4 separate regions of the Homo sapiens genome follow, and regions 2, 3 and 4 are each linked to region 1. The links come from fine-mapping of genetic effects on gene expression. A gene starts in region 1. Each other region holds a variant in brackets. All regions are shown on one strand. Distances are between the middles of the regions. Region 1 holds the start of PLAAT2 (phospholipase A and acyltransferase 2). Region 2 has its middle 15 kb from the start of LGALS12. Region 3 overlaps LGALS12 (galectin 12). Region 4 overlaps RTN3 (reticulon 3).

Region 1 (4,165 bases):
CTGTCGGATTGACACAACAAATTAACCACCACGGCTGCTATGAACATCTGTGGACAGGTTTTTGTGGGACACAGGGCTTATTTAAGAAATTGGTTATTTTCTATTTCTTCAACTAGGTTTATTGGTACCTGTTTTGTTATTATTTCTAGTGTTTTATACTTATGTTGCAATTATTCTTCTATATGGATATAAGATTTAATAAAATCCTTTATTTATTTATTTATTTATTTCTGAGACATAGTCTCACTCTGTAACCCAGGCTGGAGGGCAGTGGCGTGATCTTGGCTCACTGCAACCTCTGCATCCCAGGTTCAATAGATTCTCCTGCCTCAGCTTCCCGAGCAGCTGGACTACAGGCGTGCGCCACCAAGCCCAGCTAATTTTTGTATTTTTAGTAGAGACGGGGTTTTGCCATGTTGGCTAGGCTGGTCTCGAACTTCTGACCCAAGTGATTCACCCACCTTGGCCTCCAAAAGTGCTGGGATTACAGGCATCAGCCACTGTGCCCGGCCAAAGCCCATTAAAATTATATGTAGCCCAAGATATTCCTGGCATGTACATAGAAAGATAACATTGCCTCTAGAAAGGGGAACTGGGTTGCTGGAGGCTGGAGGCTGGAGGTGGGGAGAATGGAGGCTTATCTTTCCTTTTATAGCCTTTTATACAATTAAACAAACATAGAGAGCGTGCATGTGAACAAAAATGTAAGTATTCCAGGCTGTAGGCCTAGAGCTTACCAGCAGGCTGGGTGTGGCCTGCCCTACCCTGTTCTCTGTCAGTAGAACTTTGTCACCTTTCCTGCTCAGCATGAACAGTAGGGAGACAGCAGAATTCTCATTCCACTGGCCCTTGATTTGCAGACTCTCCTTTCCTATAGCTCCTGGACATAATTTCCTGACACTCTGAACAGCTTGGATTCGGTGAAAAGCCACAAGCCCCAGCATGAGTACAGTGATGTTCCTCCCCAACTCCGCCCTGCATGGTCTGGTTGGTCATTGTGCCAACCCACCTGAGATCCTTTCAGCAGACAGCACGTGGAAGTCCTCCTGCCCCAGGAAACAGGGGTGTGATGTGGTTGCAAGGGGAGGGCAGGCATAGGAAGAACTGAGATTGCTGGACTGGAGGTCAGCCCCTAAAAAGATGATCAGCAAGCCTGAGTGGGACCGGCCCAGAGGTCTCTGGACAATGGGGCAGGAGATAATTAGCCAAGCCAACCCTACTGTCTCCCTCCAGAAGGAATACTTTGAAGATTGTCCCACTGCAACTCAGAGGAGAATGGAGTGGAGGTGCTGAGAGAGGCCGTCTCCATGGGAGCAAGACCACATGACCACGTGAGCTGAGGGAGTAGCTGGTCATGCAGAACTGCTGTGGCTCCCAAAGAGTTTTCCAGTTCTGGCTCCAGTCCATCTGCATCCCCACACTAAAGCTCTTTGTTTGTTTGTTTGTTTATAGCCTGAAGAGGGTAAGTTATTGGTCCTCGCCCCCATGCCCCACAGTGAGGATGCTCAGCTCCCCCCAGCCCCACCCACCCCTTCCTGTCCAGTTTGCTCAGGACCGGACAACTATATGTAGATGACAGAAGAGATACTTATTTGGAGCTTGGGTGAGATAAGCATGCAGGTGCCTCAAAGAAGCAACCTCTACACACCCAGTACTGGGTTTTGGTTTCCATTTGGTGTGGAATGAGTGTTTCTGAACTGTGGGTGAGAGGCAGAAAGGGGAGTGGTTTCTATACTGCTGTCCAAGCAGGCTCACTCTGTTTCCAGGGTAGAGGAATGTGCCTCCAATAATACGATTTTTCTAGGGCCATGGGGTTTGAGGTTGGTGGAAATGTTTGCCTGTCCCGGCAACCATCATTCCCAATTTGGAGGCATGAATCTCAGTCTCTCTGGGGCTCCTCTCTCCTTTTTGAAATTTTCCCCCATGGTCTCTGTCTCTATATCCTCCCTTGCCCCCACAACCACTGGATCTTGCTTGTTCCACCTGAAACTTGGTGATTGTCAGCTGTGCCCCTGACCACACTGCCACTAAGTCCTTCTCAATCTATATCCTGAGCTCTGATTCCTCTTCTGTCTGGCTGATTTTCATGCCGCCTTGCCTACTTGATATGTGCTCTGCCCCTGTTTGAAGACAGGGAAAATTTTACATGAACCTTGATCTATGTTCTGTTTTTTTTTTTTTTTTTTTTTTGACTGAGTCTCGCCCTGCCGCCCAGGCTAGAGTGCAGTGGCACGACCTCTGCTCGCTGCAAGGTCTGCCTACTGGGTTGACGCCATTTCCTGCCTCGGCCTCTGGAGTAGCTGGGACTACAGGTGCCCACCACCATGCCCAGCTAATTTTTTCTATTTTTTAGGAGAGACGGGGTTTCACCGTGTTAGTCAGGATGGTCTCGATCTCCTGACCTTGTGATCCTCCCGCCTCAGCCTCTCAAAGTGCTGGGATTACAGGTGTGAGCCACCGCACCCAGCCTATGTTCTGAAATAGTTGTATATGGGCTGGGTCACAGGGAAAGTGAAACTCAGAGCTAATTTAAGGCTGGACACAGAGTCAGCAACACACAAGACATCATCTTGAAGGAAGGATGGCTTTGGTAAGTCCCCAGAAACGGTTTTAAAGCTTTGATTTGAGGAACAACCACCCTATTAGTGATGATTATGTGTATTCTTGTTGGTCTACAGCTCTGGCATGGAGGGCACATGGGCACATGCTGAGTTCTGGGGGTCTGGCTCTCTCAGACACTGTGGGAAGGAACCACGGTGCTGGGTTATGACCCTGGAGGCTCCCCAGCCTCAGCTGCCGCATGGGGTCTGGTTCTACTGTGGCCAAAGTTTGCGTTTATGCTTTTCCAAGCCCTCCTCTGGCCAAACTACCAGTGGCTCTGCTAAGCCTCCTGAAGGCAGGAATGGTGGGCTCAGGGAGAGCAGCCCTTGGTTTACCCCACAGGCCGCCTCCTCTGTCACATCATCCTCAGTGGGAGGGATTAGCTGGGGAGGGAGGGTCCAGGGAAAGGGCTCCAGCTGTGTGGGTGGCAATGGGGGCTGTCAGAAAGGGCTCTGTCTCCCTCGCCTCCAGGCAGGGCCAGTCCCTCTACTTTCCCTCCTTCCCTCCAATTCCTTCTTAGTTTCCTTCTTCCTTTAGACCCAATAGCAGCCACATTTCCCAAGTGCTCAGGGGTCCAGACACCATGCTAAACACTTCTTTTATTTAATCCACACCAGGTAGTTAATAAGCAATCCTATGAAGTAGGCATAATTACTGCCAACTTCATGGATAGGAGGAATGATATACTGGTAAGTATAGAGAGGGGGCTGCCCAAAAGTCAGAGAGGGAATTCGAACTTAGGAGGCTCTGACTCTAAAGCTTCGACTTAAAAAAGAAAGAATGTATTTAATTCCAGGAGAAATACGTGAACACATTCACTTTGTCTGAAAAACCGAAACTCTAGCCTGGGCAACATAGTGAGATCCCATCCCTACAAAAAATATTAAAATTAGCCAAGGATAATGGTATGTGCTTATAGTCCTAGCTTCTTGGGAGGCTGAGGTGGGAGGATCACTTGAGCTGGGGAGGCTGAGGCTTCCTGCAGTGAGCTGTGATAGTGCCACTGCACTCCAGCCTGGGTGACAAAATGAGATCATGTCTCAAAAAAAGCCAAAAGCCAAAAACCAAAACTATTAGCATAAAAACTAATGTCCCCTTTGACCATCCTTCCCATCTGTACAGCCTTTCCCCTCTGTACAACCTGGTGCGTATTCTTCCAAATATTTTTCTGTTTTTGCATACATATATGGCTACCTTACAAGTATTGGTTTGTAGCTTTGGGGTTTGTTGTAGTTTTAAATTGCATTCCGTGAGGACAATTCAGTTAGGAAATGCTTGAATCTTTTCCTTTATTTACCAGCTTTTGGAATAATAGGGTGATTCTTTTCCATCCTCCAAAGATGCCTAGTGTTTTTAAAAAATATCCTTATGAACACGTGGGTTTTAACATATTTGATGTGTTTCAGTTTGTGTACAGTTATTTTTATTATTTTTTTTTGATGCTCAAATTGTCCCTTATTTGGTCAAGTTGACTCTTGACCCCTCTAGTCAAAGGCTTTACTTTTTTTTAAATTTCGAGGTTCTGGGGGGGAACATGTGGTATTTGGTTACATAAATTAGTTTT
Region 2 (4,165 bases), 43 kb after region 1:
ACCTCAAGGAACTTGGTGCCAGGAAGCGATTGCCCTCAGCAAACATTGTGTCGGCAGGAGCAGTCGTGAGTTTGCTCACATCCTGCATTTATGATAAACAGTTTGCTGTTTGATCATATAGCCTCCAGTGGAATGCTGAGTTGGTCACATCCCACGGGTCTTCGGCTCCCTATAATTTATATCATGGAAGAGAGAAGAGAAAATATATTCAGGAAACAAGAACAGGAGGCTATAAAAAAAGAAATATTTAGCTGGGCATGGTGGCTCATGACTGGAATCTTAGCACTGTGGGAGCCTGAGGCAGGTGGATCACTTGAGGTCAGGAGTTTGAGACCAGCCTGGCTAACATAGCGATACCTCATCTCTACTAAAAATACAAAAATTAGCCAGGAGTGGTGGAGCACACCTGTAATTCCAGCTACTCAGGAGGCTGAGGCATAAGAATCACTTGAACCTGGGAGGTGGAGGCTGCAGTGAGCTGAGATTGCGCCACTGCATTCCAGCCTGGGTGACAGAGTTGAGACTCTCTCAAGAAAATATATATAAATAAAATTAAATTAAATTAAAAAAGAAACATTTAGGGAATAAGATAGTAGTTTTGGTTTTCTTGCTGAAAAATTGAAACTGAATCTGATCAAAACTCTAGATGAAAAGAAGTACAGGAGACAGTGGAGTATTTTAAACAATGCCCTAGGGATTAACCAGCAGAATTCAGACTCTGAGAAGCTCTATAAGGAAAAGTTATCAGTTTTATCCCCAACAATAAAATGTAAGAAAAAAAGAAAGGAAGATGGAATCTATGGATTAAAGACCTAGAGTACATATAAACAATTGATGACCTTGCACAGAAAAGAGACAATCCAGAATCTAAGGCTATGATAGTATTGATGGATGGATAAGTAAAATTATAAGCTAATTTATGAACTTAATGCAAGAACAGTAGTATCAGTAAATGAAATGCAGCAATGTATTCATTAAAAATTCATTTACTCCAGGAATTTAAGGAATTTAAAGATACTTATAGCATGAAATTAGAAAGCCTATTAATGTAATTTACCTCATTAACAGATTAGAAAAAATATGATCATATCAGTAAACGCAGAAGACAGACTTGACACTCACTCATGAAAAAAATGAAAGTGTATCTTAACAAACTAAGAAAAAATGAAAATCTCTTTACCCTAAAAATAGTATCTATTCCCAACCTATGATAATCATCATATTTAATAGTGAAATCTTAATTGCATTTCCCTGTGGTCAGGAACAGGTCAAGGATGCCTGCTAACCACACTGCTACTCAACAGTGTGCAAGAATTCTTGGCCAATGTCATATAATAAAGGAAGCATGAGGGAGAGAGGAAGGAAGCGAGGGAATGTGGTTGGGAGTGGGGGGAAGAGTGAGAGACAGAGAGGGAGAGGGAGATTGGAAAGGAAGAAATCAGAAATCATTATTTTTTGCAAGTGGTAAGATTACCTATCTGTTTGTTTGTTTATTTATTGAGACAGAGTCTTGCTCTGTCCCCCAGCCTGGAGTGCAGTGGTGTGATCTCGGCTCACTGCAACCTCTGCCTCCTGGGTTCAACAGATTTTTGTGCCTCAGCTTCCTGAGTAGGCAGGATTACAGGCATGTGCCACCATGCCCAGCTAATTTTTTGTATTTTTAGTAGAGACGGAGTTTCGCCATGTTGGCAAGGCTGGTTTCAAACTCCTGACCTCAAGCGATCCACCTGCCTCGGCCTCCCCAAGCGCTGGGATTACAGGTGTAAGCCACTGTGCCAGGGCAAGATTGTCTATTTGAACTAATAAAATATATATAATTTTAGCAAGTTTGCTAGGAACGAGATTAATATACATAAATCAGGTGCATTTTTGTACCAGTATCAAGTAAGTACAATTTTTTAAAAAGATAGCATTTACAAATCACACACAAAGCTATAAAGTGCCTAAGTATAAATCTAACAAAAGTTGTGCGATGCCCCAGTAAAAACAAACACACACATCTTATGTTACCAGAGCAACCCTGGAGACATAGCTGAGAAAGCTTGTTATTTTCTTAAACAGTAGATAACTAAGAAAGCTCATTGTTCTTCCTTAAACAGGTTTTTAAATCATTTTACCTACAGGTATGTTTGCTTAAGAGAACTTCAGATGGCCCAGGAGGCTGCTGGAGCCTCAGGACTCTTTGGCAATTACTAGAGGAAGATAAGGTCAGAG[C/A]AAGACCCCAGCAAACTGAGCTGGTGATGCCTTGTTACCTTCAGATCATTAACGTATCATTATAATGCTAAAGTCCTGTATTAGGCCACGCAGCTGATAAAGACATATCTGAGACTAGGCAATTTACAAAATAAAGAGGTTTAATTGGACTAATAGTTCCACATGGCTGGGGAAGCCTCACAATCATGGTGGAAGGCAAAGAGGAACAAGTCACATCTTACATGGATGGCAGAGGCAAAGAGATAAGTCGAAACTGAAGAAGACAGAAGTGCAAGAGAAAAATCCACTGCCTTCCAAAGAAATGATTGAACAGGAGAAGCAAGCTGGTGAATCGTAATGAGGCATGTGCTGCCAATATGCACTGTACATTCCACAAGCATTGCTTTCTTATTTTACTTATTTTAGCTGTTTAACTTTGTAAGATGCATAGAGGTTGGATCAAGTTTAAATGACTCTGCTGCCCCTTTCACACCAAAGAACTACTGACAATGAAGGCCAAGCCTGCCACTCCCATCTGACTTTCTGGCTGGCAGAAAAGGAAAGAACGTGCATGTTGGTGAAGGAAGAAGTGGGGTGGAAAAAGTGGGGTGGGACAACAATGAAATCTAGAGTAAAACCAAGCTGGCCCAAGGTGTCATGCAGCCTGTAATACTGTTTAATCAGAGTGCCATTTTTTTTTTGTTCAAATGATTTTAAGTATTGGAATGCAAAATTTTCAAAAATATGCAAATAGAAGTTTAAAAACTTTTTTAAAAAAAGGGGGGGACTCCTCTTTTTAAAACCATCAGATCTCAGGAGACTTATTCATTATCACGAGAACAGCCTGGGAAAGGCTTGCCCCCATGATTCAATTACCTCCCACTGCGTCCCTCCCACAACACATGGGAATTCAAGATGAGATTTGGGTGGGGACATAGCCAAACCATATCAAATCCCCACCCCTAGAAGAAAATTGCTGCCATTTTCTGAACATACCTCATATGAAGAAGCATGTTTATGATCTGTAACTGCACATCTGGAGTTCCTCCCTGTACATGCTTACATACATACCTCCCCGCCCCACATCTAATTCCTTAAAGTTCCCTGGATTCCATCACCTTCGGAAGGGGTTCTTTAGAAAAAGAGCTCACTCCTCCGTTCCTGACCAGCAATAAAATCTGCTTGCCTTTTTTTCCAATTGGATATTCTTTCTTGGCTATCAATACAAAGTAAGGAAAGAACTTGGTTTCCCAGTGACAGAAGGAAATAAAGGATGACCAAAATAAATTGAGGGATATACTGTATATATGATTGGGAAGAAGCAATGTAGAGATGCAAGCTCCTCTGTGCCCCTAAAAATCTATACACAGAATACATTTTAATAAAAATATCCTATAAAACATTTGTGGAAATTGAGGTTTATCTTCTTTTAAAAAATAATTTCAACTTTTATTTTAGATTCAGAGAGTACCTGTGCAGGTTTGTATATTGTGTAAAGCTGAGGTTTGGGGTGTGAATTATCCCGTCACTCAGGTAGTGAGCATAATACCCAATGGTTTTTCAACCCTTTCTCCCATTCCTTCCTTCTTTTCTCCCTCCAGTCTAGTAGTCCCCAGAGTCTATTGCCATCTCTTTGTCCATGACCACCCAATGTTTAGCTCCTACTTATAAGTGAGAATATATGGTATTTGGTTTTCTGTTCTTCTGTTAATTCACTAAGGATAATGGCCTCCAGCTGCATCTATGTTGCTGCAAAGGACATAGTTTCATTCTTTTTTATGACTGTGTAGTAATCCATGGTGTATATGCACCACATTTTCTTCATCCAATCCTCTGTTGACAGGCACCTAGGTTGATTCCATGTCTTTGCTATTGTGAATAGTGCTGCAATTAACATACAAGTCCGGCTGGGCATGGTGGCTCACGCCTGTAATCCCAGCACTTTGGGAGGCCGAGGTGGGCGGATCACGAG
Region 3 (4,165 bases), 48 kb after region 1:
GCTGTAATCTCACATGGTGGTAGGGGTGAGGGAGCTCTCTGGAGTCTCTTTTATTTTATTTATATATATATATTTTTTTTTTGAGACAGAGTCTGGCTCTGTCACACAGGCTGGAGTGCAGTGGTATGATGTTGGCTCAATGCAATCTCTGCCTCCCGGGTTCAAGCGATTCTCCTGCCTCAGCCTCCTGAGTAGCTGGGATTACGGGCGTGTGCCACCATGCGCAGCTAATTTTTGTGTTTTTAGTAGAAACGGGGTTTTGCCATGTTGGCCAGGCTGGTGTCGAACTCCTGACTTCAGGTGATCTGCCTGCCTTGGCCTCCCAAAGTGCTGGGATTACAGGCGTGAGCCACCTCGCCCGGCCTGGAGTCTCTTTTATAAGGGCACTAATCCCATTCATGAAGGCTCCACCTTCATGACCTAATCACCCTCCAAAGTCCCCACCTCCAAACACCATTTCCTTGGGTGCTAGGATTTCAACATATAAATTTTAGTTGGGAGGACACAAACATTCAGACCATGGCACATATATTACTGTATAATGTATACTATGCTATATATATGTATATATGGTATATATTATATACAGTTATATATAATTCTTAAATTATTTCTCATTTAATCTTGCTCTTTCCTTGGTGGTGGTCCTTCGTTTGTCTTGTCTGTACTTTTCGACTTGCAAGGTTCTTTGATTCCTCTCAAGCCTCCAGCTCCGATGTCCATCTTTATCTGGAAGCTCTAGTGTGCCTGTGTACTCTAGATAATGGTTTATGGTTAAGAGCCGCAAACTCTGCAGACAGAATCCCTGGGTTCTAATCCCATGACTTACTCACTGTGTGATCTTGGCAAATTAGCCTTTCTGTGCGTCAGTTTCTTATGTTATAAAATGAGGATATTAACAGCATCTACTTGTCTCAGAGACTGTGGCTATCCACCAAAATCCATTCTCCCTGTTTTTTATAGTAATAGAATAAAACTATTCTGTTATTTTATGACTACTCTATTTCATGTGGCTGGTCTTATGTGTCCCACTGAAGAACATTTCCAGCCTCCCTTGCAGGTAGTGTGACCGAGACTGAGTGCCTGCAGATGAAATGTGACTGTAGCTGGTGTGTGTCGGACCCATGTCTGGGGCTTATGATATCAGGTGGGTCTTGTCCACTGCCACTACTAGCCTTCTCAGTGGGTGAGGCCAAGATAGGGTGGCAGCTGAGCTTGGGCCACAGAGACAATGATGATGCCCTGGGGGTGGTGGAACAATGGCTAGGACAGACCCTGAATGTCTCCAGGGAGCAGAGCTGCCCTGCTAAGCTGGACCATTGTCTCTAGAATTGCTAGATGAGAACGAAATAAATAAATAACCTTATTTATTTATTTGACCACAAATAAATAAATAATAAAGAATAAATGACCACATTCTTTAAGCCATTGTATTTTGGAGTATCTTTGTTAGTCTACAACACTTGCCTCTGTGAGTGCAGTCCAGGCCCTGAAGGCAGATGGAGCCATATCCCAGGCTCCTGGTGGAGGAAGGTGCAGAGTTCGAGGAACCTTTGCACTCTTGTGCCTTCCCTCAGGCCCAAAGCTCCTGTAGACTCAGTCTCGTGACCCCAGAGGTGAACCAGGCCTGATGTGCTGGTGTCAGGTGGATGGTTTAATGAGGGGAGGAGAGTGGGGCCCTGGGAGTGGGCTGACCTTCTTGTTTTCTGGCGGTATTTCCCTGGAACCATCCTCAGGAGTGGACACAGTAGAGCTGGACACTTCCACTGATCCGGAGCTCCCGCAGCTGCTCCAGGGCCTGCTGGTTCATGCTGGTGGCCCCCAGCCCCTGCCCATTGAGCGCCAGCTTCAGCCCTCCCTCCTGGAACAGGAGCAGCACCTGGGAAAGGAGGACATGAGGGGGTTGCAGCTTCCAGCCAGACTTTCCCTTGTCTGCCTGACGCTCTCTCCAGTGAGACCCTCCTCCTCTCATAGGACACGAAGACTGGACCCAGGGGGCACCCAGTACAGTGCTGGAAAAGAACAGGATAAGGGGCCCGGCTTGTCACCAGCCCACTGTGGTCTTTGACAAGGATCTTCCCAGCCTTGGGCCTCAGTTTCACCACCTGTAACTGGGGCTGCTTCCTGTAGAGGAGTGGTTCTGCACGTCGGAATCATTAGGGGAGCTTTTTAATAAAGCTGATGCCTGGGCCCCCCCCCACCTGCATCAATTGAGTTTCTGGCCATGGGATCCCTGGCATCAGAGTGGAGCGTTGAGGACTGCTGTACAGACATTCGCTGTGCTCTGCTGGCTCTGGCCTCCCACCCCATAACATCTGTCCTGCACACCTGCCCCAGCATCTCCCAGGTCATTATGGGACTTCAGCTCTGTGCTCCA[G/C]CCTGAAGGGATGTAATCATTTGGCTCTGACCTACCTCAAAGAATCTCTGGGGGTAAAAGAGGAAGGGGGCTGAGATCAGTTTCTTCTGCCCCCAGCGGGAGATCCAGGCCAGAGTTCTGTCTGCGAAGGAGGCCCTGAGTGTCACAGGAGCATGGGCAGCCTGGTCCCTCAGGCTCACAGTAAAACTGCAGGAAGCAGGAGGAAGGAGAAGGAATCAGCGCCCATTGCCCATAGGCCGCTGCTCAGCCCCCAGGGGAAGGATGGAGGTCAGGGAGTGGATGGAAGGTTGAGCTGCTTCAGCCTCCAGAAACAAGCACTGAGGGCCTATGACAGCCTCATGGCTGAATGCTCAGAACAGTGGAAAGAACACGAGTTCTAGATGAACTTGAGATTGACCTCCAGGGTTGCCATCTATGACTACAGGAGGATGGGGGTGGGAGGGAAGTGTGTGAAAATTGCCTAGCCTGAGCTTCAGTTTCTCCTCCTGAAAATGGGGATGATTATGATGATGATAGCTACAGCTAACATTTATTGAATGCTAACTAAGTGCCAGGTATTATCTTAAATGTTTTCCAAACAGCATAGTGGTTAGAGTCAGGCAGTCCCGATTCAACCCTGGCTCTGCTACTTTCTAGTCCTGTGACCTTGGGCAAGACTCTTAATCTCTCTGTGCCTCAGTTTCCTCATCTGTAATGTGACGATAACATAACTGCCCTGTACCTGCCTGTGGCATTGTTGTAAGAATTAAATGAATACATAAAAAAATGCTTATTTAGAATAGCACCTGGAACGTAATAAGCATTCAGATGATACCTATTGTTTAAAAATATTGCTATATAATACAATCTCTACCTCATAGAGCCAAAAAAAAAAAGGAACAAAGGAGATAATGTATGTGAAAACTAGCAATTCCTAGCACACAGTAGGTGTTTTACAGAAGCTAGTTTGCCTTTCCTTAATCCTCACAAATTCTGTGCTGTGAGGTTTGTCAGCCCATTTAAGTGATGAGGACAAGAAGTTAAATGACTTCTCTGTTACTAGTAATAGTGGTAGGGCCTTAGGTTAGGATGTGAACTAGGATTCATGACTCTAGATTTGGGGGTGGGGGGATCTGGCACCTGCCTCTCAAATAGGGCAACCGGATTATATTATTTTTCTTTATTTTATTTTATTTTTTTGAGACAGAGTCTTGCTCTGTCACCAAGCTGGAGTGCAGTGGCACGATCTCGGCTCACTGCAACCTCTTCCTCCCAGGTTCAAGCAGTTCTCCTGCCTCAGCCTCCGGAGTAGCTGGGACTACAGGCGCATGCCCGCACCGCCCAGCTAATTTTTGTATTTTTAGTAGAGATGGGGTTTCACTATGTTGGCCAGGGTGGTCTCGATCTCTTGACCTTGTGATCTGCCCACCTTGGCCTCCCAAAGTGCTGGGATTACAGGCTTGAGCCACCGCGCCCGGCCCAGATTATTTTTATGTCTTGGGAACTTCCCAAGTTTCCTTCTTGAAGAGCTATGCTGGAGAAGGCGCGGCATCCTGATGGGATGCAGAGGCAGGTAAGGTAGGGGAAAAGGCCGCCCTGGACAGGCCTTTCAAGGGCTATTGGTAGATCCTTACAGGAGGAGGCCCCGTAAGTTTCCAACTTTGGGAAGGAGGTGGCCAGGGCCCAATGTTGGGAAGAAGCTTGGAAGGCAGGAACCCTGGAGAGTGGACTGCGTGGAGCCTCCAGCCCCACTATGGCTCCCCCTACCCCGTCCTGCCAGACAACACTGTGTCTTCCTCTGGCCTGCGA
Region 4 (4,165 bases), 130 kb before region 1:
ATTCTGGGGAGAAGGAACAATTGGCCAGATTCCAAATGGCTTTAAATGCCATGTAATCTGGATTATATCCTTTGTGTAATAAGGAATCACTGAAGGTTTTTAAGTAAGGGTGTGACAATATCACGTGTTTTAGAAAGAACTCTGGCAGCAGGGTAGAGCATGGACGGAACTGAAAAGCTACTGCATAATCTTGGCAAGAGATAAGGGCTCGCACTAAGGCAGTGAGGATGGGAATGAGAGGACTGCTGACAAGAGAGAAGACAGGTCTTGAGACCATCTGCCTGGATGTTAAAGACTGGAGAAGTAAAAGATCACTGAGGGACTAAATGAAATGCCATGGTTGGGAACACAGAAGGAATTCTTTTTTTTTTTTTTGAGAAGGAGTCTCAGCTCTGTCGCCCGCCCAGGCTGGAGTACAGTGGTGTGATTTCAGCTCACTGCAACCTCCGCCTCCCAGGTTCAAGTGATTCTCATGCCTCAGCCTGCTGAGTAGCTGGGATTACAGGTGCATGCTACCACACACGGCTAATTTTTGTATTTTTAGTAGGGGTTTTGTATTTTTAGTGGGGTTTCACCATGCTGGCAGGCTGGTCTCAAACTCCTGACCTAAAGTGACCCGCCCACCTTGGCCTCCCAAAGTGTTCGGATTACAGGCGTGAGCCACTGTGCCCGGCCAGGAATCCCTTATATTATTAACTTTCAATATAAAAAAGTTGCCTAAGGCATATATAAGTGGCAACTGTTGAACAGGCAGTGCAGTAATAGGGACAGGCTCAGGAGAGAGGTAAATGCTGTAGATAAATATCTGGGAATTAACATTTGGGTGAGAACTGACACCACTGCAGTGAATACCTTCATCCAGGAAGAAATACAGAAGTTTTACAAAAGAATCTTGAGGTATCTCAATATTTAAAGGGGCCAGTGGTAGGAGCTCGGGAGCAGGTGCTGGCAGTCAGTCGGAACAACCTCTCCCAGCCTTGCCTCATGTACAAGACAGTATCTGGAGTCAATGGTTCCTCAGTGATCTTAGATCATGTTAAGTTTCCCAGGTATGCTGAGATTGGCCACTTGATCTTACCAGATGGCATGAAGAGAAATTTTAAAATATGTGTATTTAAAGGGGATCAAGAAAGAAAGACCAGTGAAGAAAACAGAAAGAAGTCAAGAAAGGAAAAAATGGTGCCATTTGGAGAATGCTTTAGAGAATGGTTAAGAGTCAAAGCCATTGAATGGCTAAATTAAGACTATGAAAAACAATCAGACGCAGTAGCTGATGCCTGTAATCCCAGCACTTTGGGAGGCCAAAGCAGGTGGATGGCTTGACCTCAGCAGTTTGAGACCAGCCTGGGCAACATGGTGAAATCCCATCTCTACAAAAAAATACAAAAATTAACCAGGCATGCTGGCTTGCTCCTGTAGTCCCAGCTACTTGGGGGGACTGAGCTGAAAGGATCACTTGAGCCCAGGAAGCGGAGGTGGCAGTGAGCTGAGATTGAGCCATGGCACCTGGGCAAGAGTGAGACACTGTTTTAAAGAAAAAAAAAAAAAGACTATGAAAAGGGTCACAGAAATTAATTTCGCATTGATGACTAAAATGAGAGTGGTAGAGGGGGAGGGAACAGACACTGAAGACTGAGGAGTGAAGGTAAGTTTAAAAAACACTGAAAACAAAAAGTATGGGAAATACGGGTGATAAAGGGAAGAACTAAAAACTGGGCAGCAGCTATAGGGAGAGGCAACGTTGAGGGAAAGTTTTTTAGAAATGAAAATGACAAGTATATTTACAGAAAGACAGAAAGGAGCCAATGAAGAAAAAAGTCTGAAAATACATAAAAAAGAAACAATTTTTTCTGGAACAAAGCCCACAAAATTGCTAGAAGATATGGGATTGAAAAAGCACAGGTGGGCCGGGCGCGGTGGCTCTCGCCTGTAATGCCAGCACTTTGGGAGGCCAAGGCGGGCAGGTCACCTGAGGGAAGGAGTTCAAGAACAGCCTGGCCAACATAGTGAAACCCTGTCTCTACTAAAAATACAAAAATTAGCCAGGCGTGGTGGCAGGTGCCCATAATCCCAGCTACTCGGGAGGCCAAGGTAGGAGAACTGCTTGAACCCAGGAGGCAGAGGTTGCAGTGAGCCAGTATCGCACCATTGCACTCCAGCCTGGGGGATAAGAGTGAAACTTCGTCTCAAAATAATAATAATAATAATAATGAGCTGGGTGTGGTGGCACATATCCCAGCTACTTGACTTGGGAGGCTGAGGCAGGAGAATTGCTTGAATCTGGGACACGGAGGTTGCAGTGAGCTGAGATGGAACCACTGCACCCCAGCCTGGGCGACAGAGTGAGGCTCTATCTCAAAAAAAAA[T/A]AAAAATAAAAAAAAAGCATAAGTGGACCTGCTGAAAATCTAATTCCAATAAATAACCAGTGCAAATATGTGGCTATAAGATTATTCATCACGATATTCTTATTTTTAAAATTTTCTTAAAATAGCAACGGGGCCGGGCGCGATGGCTCACGCCTGTAATCCCAGCACTTTGGGAGGCCGAGGCGGACAGATCACGAGGTCAGGAGATCAAGACCACCTTGGCTAACATGGTGAAACCCCATCTCTACTAAAAATACAAAAAATTAGTCGGGTATGGTGGCAGGCGTCTGTAGTCCCAGCTACTCAGGAGGCTGAGGCAGGAGAATGGCGTGAACCCGGGAGGCGGAGTTTGCCGTGAGCCAAGATCACGCCACTGCACTCCAGCCTGGGCGACAGAGCAAGACTCCATCTCAAAAAAAAAAAAAAAAAAAAAGAAAGAAAGAAAGAAAGAAAGAAAATAGCAACAGGGGCCAGGTGTGGTGGCTCAAGCCTGTAATCCCAGCACTTTGGGAGGCCAAGGAGGGTGGATCACCTGAGGTCAGGAGTTCGAGACCAGCCTGGCCAACCATGGTGAAACCCTGTCTCTACTAAAAATACAAAAATTAGCTGGGTGTGGAGGCAGGCACCTGTAATCCCAGCTACTCGGGAGGCTGAGGCAGGAGAATTGCTTGAACCCGGGAGGTGGAGGTTGCAGTGAGCCAAGATGGCACCACTGTACTCCAACGTGGGCAACAGAGCAAGACTCCGTCTCCAAAAAAAAAAAAAAAAAAATAGTGACAGGGCCCCACTATGTTATCCAAGCTGGTCTTGAACTCCTGGGCTCAAGCCATCCTCCTACCTTAGCCTCCCGAAGTGCTGGGATTACAGGCGTGAGCCACCGCACCTGGCTTCATCACAATATTCTTTTTTTTTCCTTTTGAGACAGAGTCTTGTTTTGTTGCCCAGGCTGGAGTGCAGTGGTGTGATCTCGGCTCACTGCAACCTCCACCTCCCAGGTTCAAGTGATTCTCCTGCCTCAGCCTCCTGAGTAGCTGGGATTACAGGTACGCACCATCACGTCTGGCTAATTTTTCTATTTTTAGTAGAGACGGGGTTTCACCATGTTGCTCCTGACCTCAAGATCTGTCCGCCTAAGCCTCCCAAAGTGCTAGGATTACAGGCATGAGCCACCAGGCCCGGCCTCATCACAATATTCCTTAAAATAGGTTTTTTTTTTTTTTTTAAAGGAAACTTAACAAAGGTCTAATAATTAGACCGTTTAAGTTTCATATATCCAAACAATAGGATAAGTCATTAACAACTGGGTTGTAGATGGGAATTTATTGACACTAAGAGATGTTCATCGTATTCTAATAAAAAAGAATATTACAAAGGTAATTTTTACTTACTATTTATTATTTTTTAGAGAAGTAAGGTCTCACTCTGTCCTTCTTTCTTGATCCCCTTTAATTTTTCCCTAACGCCCCTTTTCTCTTCCCAAGATCCTATCCAGGATACCATATCACATTTTGTCATCATGTCTCCTTAGCCTTTTCTGGACTGTCAGCTTCTCAGACTTCTCTTGACAGTTTTAATAAGACTCTGGTCAGATATTTTACAGAATGTCCCTCAATTTGAATTTGTCAGATGTTTTTCTCATGGTTAGACTGGAGTGATGGCTTTTCGGGAAGAATACCAAGGGCCATGCTCATCACAGCATATCAAGAGTACAGACTATCAACATGACTTATCAACTGATGATGTTAACCTGATCCCTGGCTGAGGTAGTGCTTGCCAGGATTCTCCACCTGGTTGGAGGA

Evidence for each region.
Region 2: its variant is fine-mapped to the expression of PLAAT2 in rectum (CEDAR, PIP 0.95).
Region 3: its variant is fine-mapped to the expression of PLAAT2 in kidney cortex (GTEx, PIP 0.99).
Region 4: its variant is fine-mapped to the expression of PLAAT2 in whole blood (INTERVAL, PIP 0.99).

The regions. Positions count from the first base shown.
Region 1 is chr11:63,561,741-63,565,905 of GRCh38, reverse strand. It overlaps PLAAT2 (phospholipase A and acyltransferase 2), which reads left to right and starts at 2,527. Exons shown (of 4, transcript NM_017878.2): 1 at 2,527-2,590. The coding sequence starts at 2,582. RefSeq lists a silencer at 1,491-1,570.
Region 2 is chr11:63,519,227-63,523,391 of GRCh38, reverse strand. It overlaps the pseudogene TMSB4XP5. Among named protein-coding and RNA genes, the nearest start is that of LGALS12, 15 kb to the right of the region's middle. The variant C/A (reference allele first, on the strand shown) is at 2,215.
Region 3 is chr11:63,513,961-63,518,125 of GRCh38, reverse strand. It overlaps LGALS12 (galectin 12), which reads right to left. Exons shown (of 9, transcript NM_033101.4): 8 at 2,413-2,563; 9 at 1,354-1,879. The coding sequence ends at 1,733. Among named protein-coding and RNA genes, the nearest start is that of LGALS12, 10 kb to the right of the region's middle. The variant G/C (reference allele first, on the strand shown) is at 2,378.
Region 4 is chr11:63,695,516-63,699,680 of GRCh38, reverse strand. All of the region lies in intron 1 of RTN3 (reticulon 3), which reads right to left. Among named protein-coding and RNA genes, the nearest start is that of RTN3, 16 kb to the right of the region's middle. The variant T/A (reference allele first, on the strand shown) is at 2,367.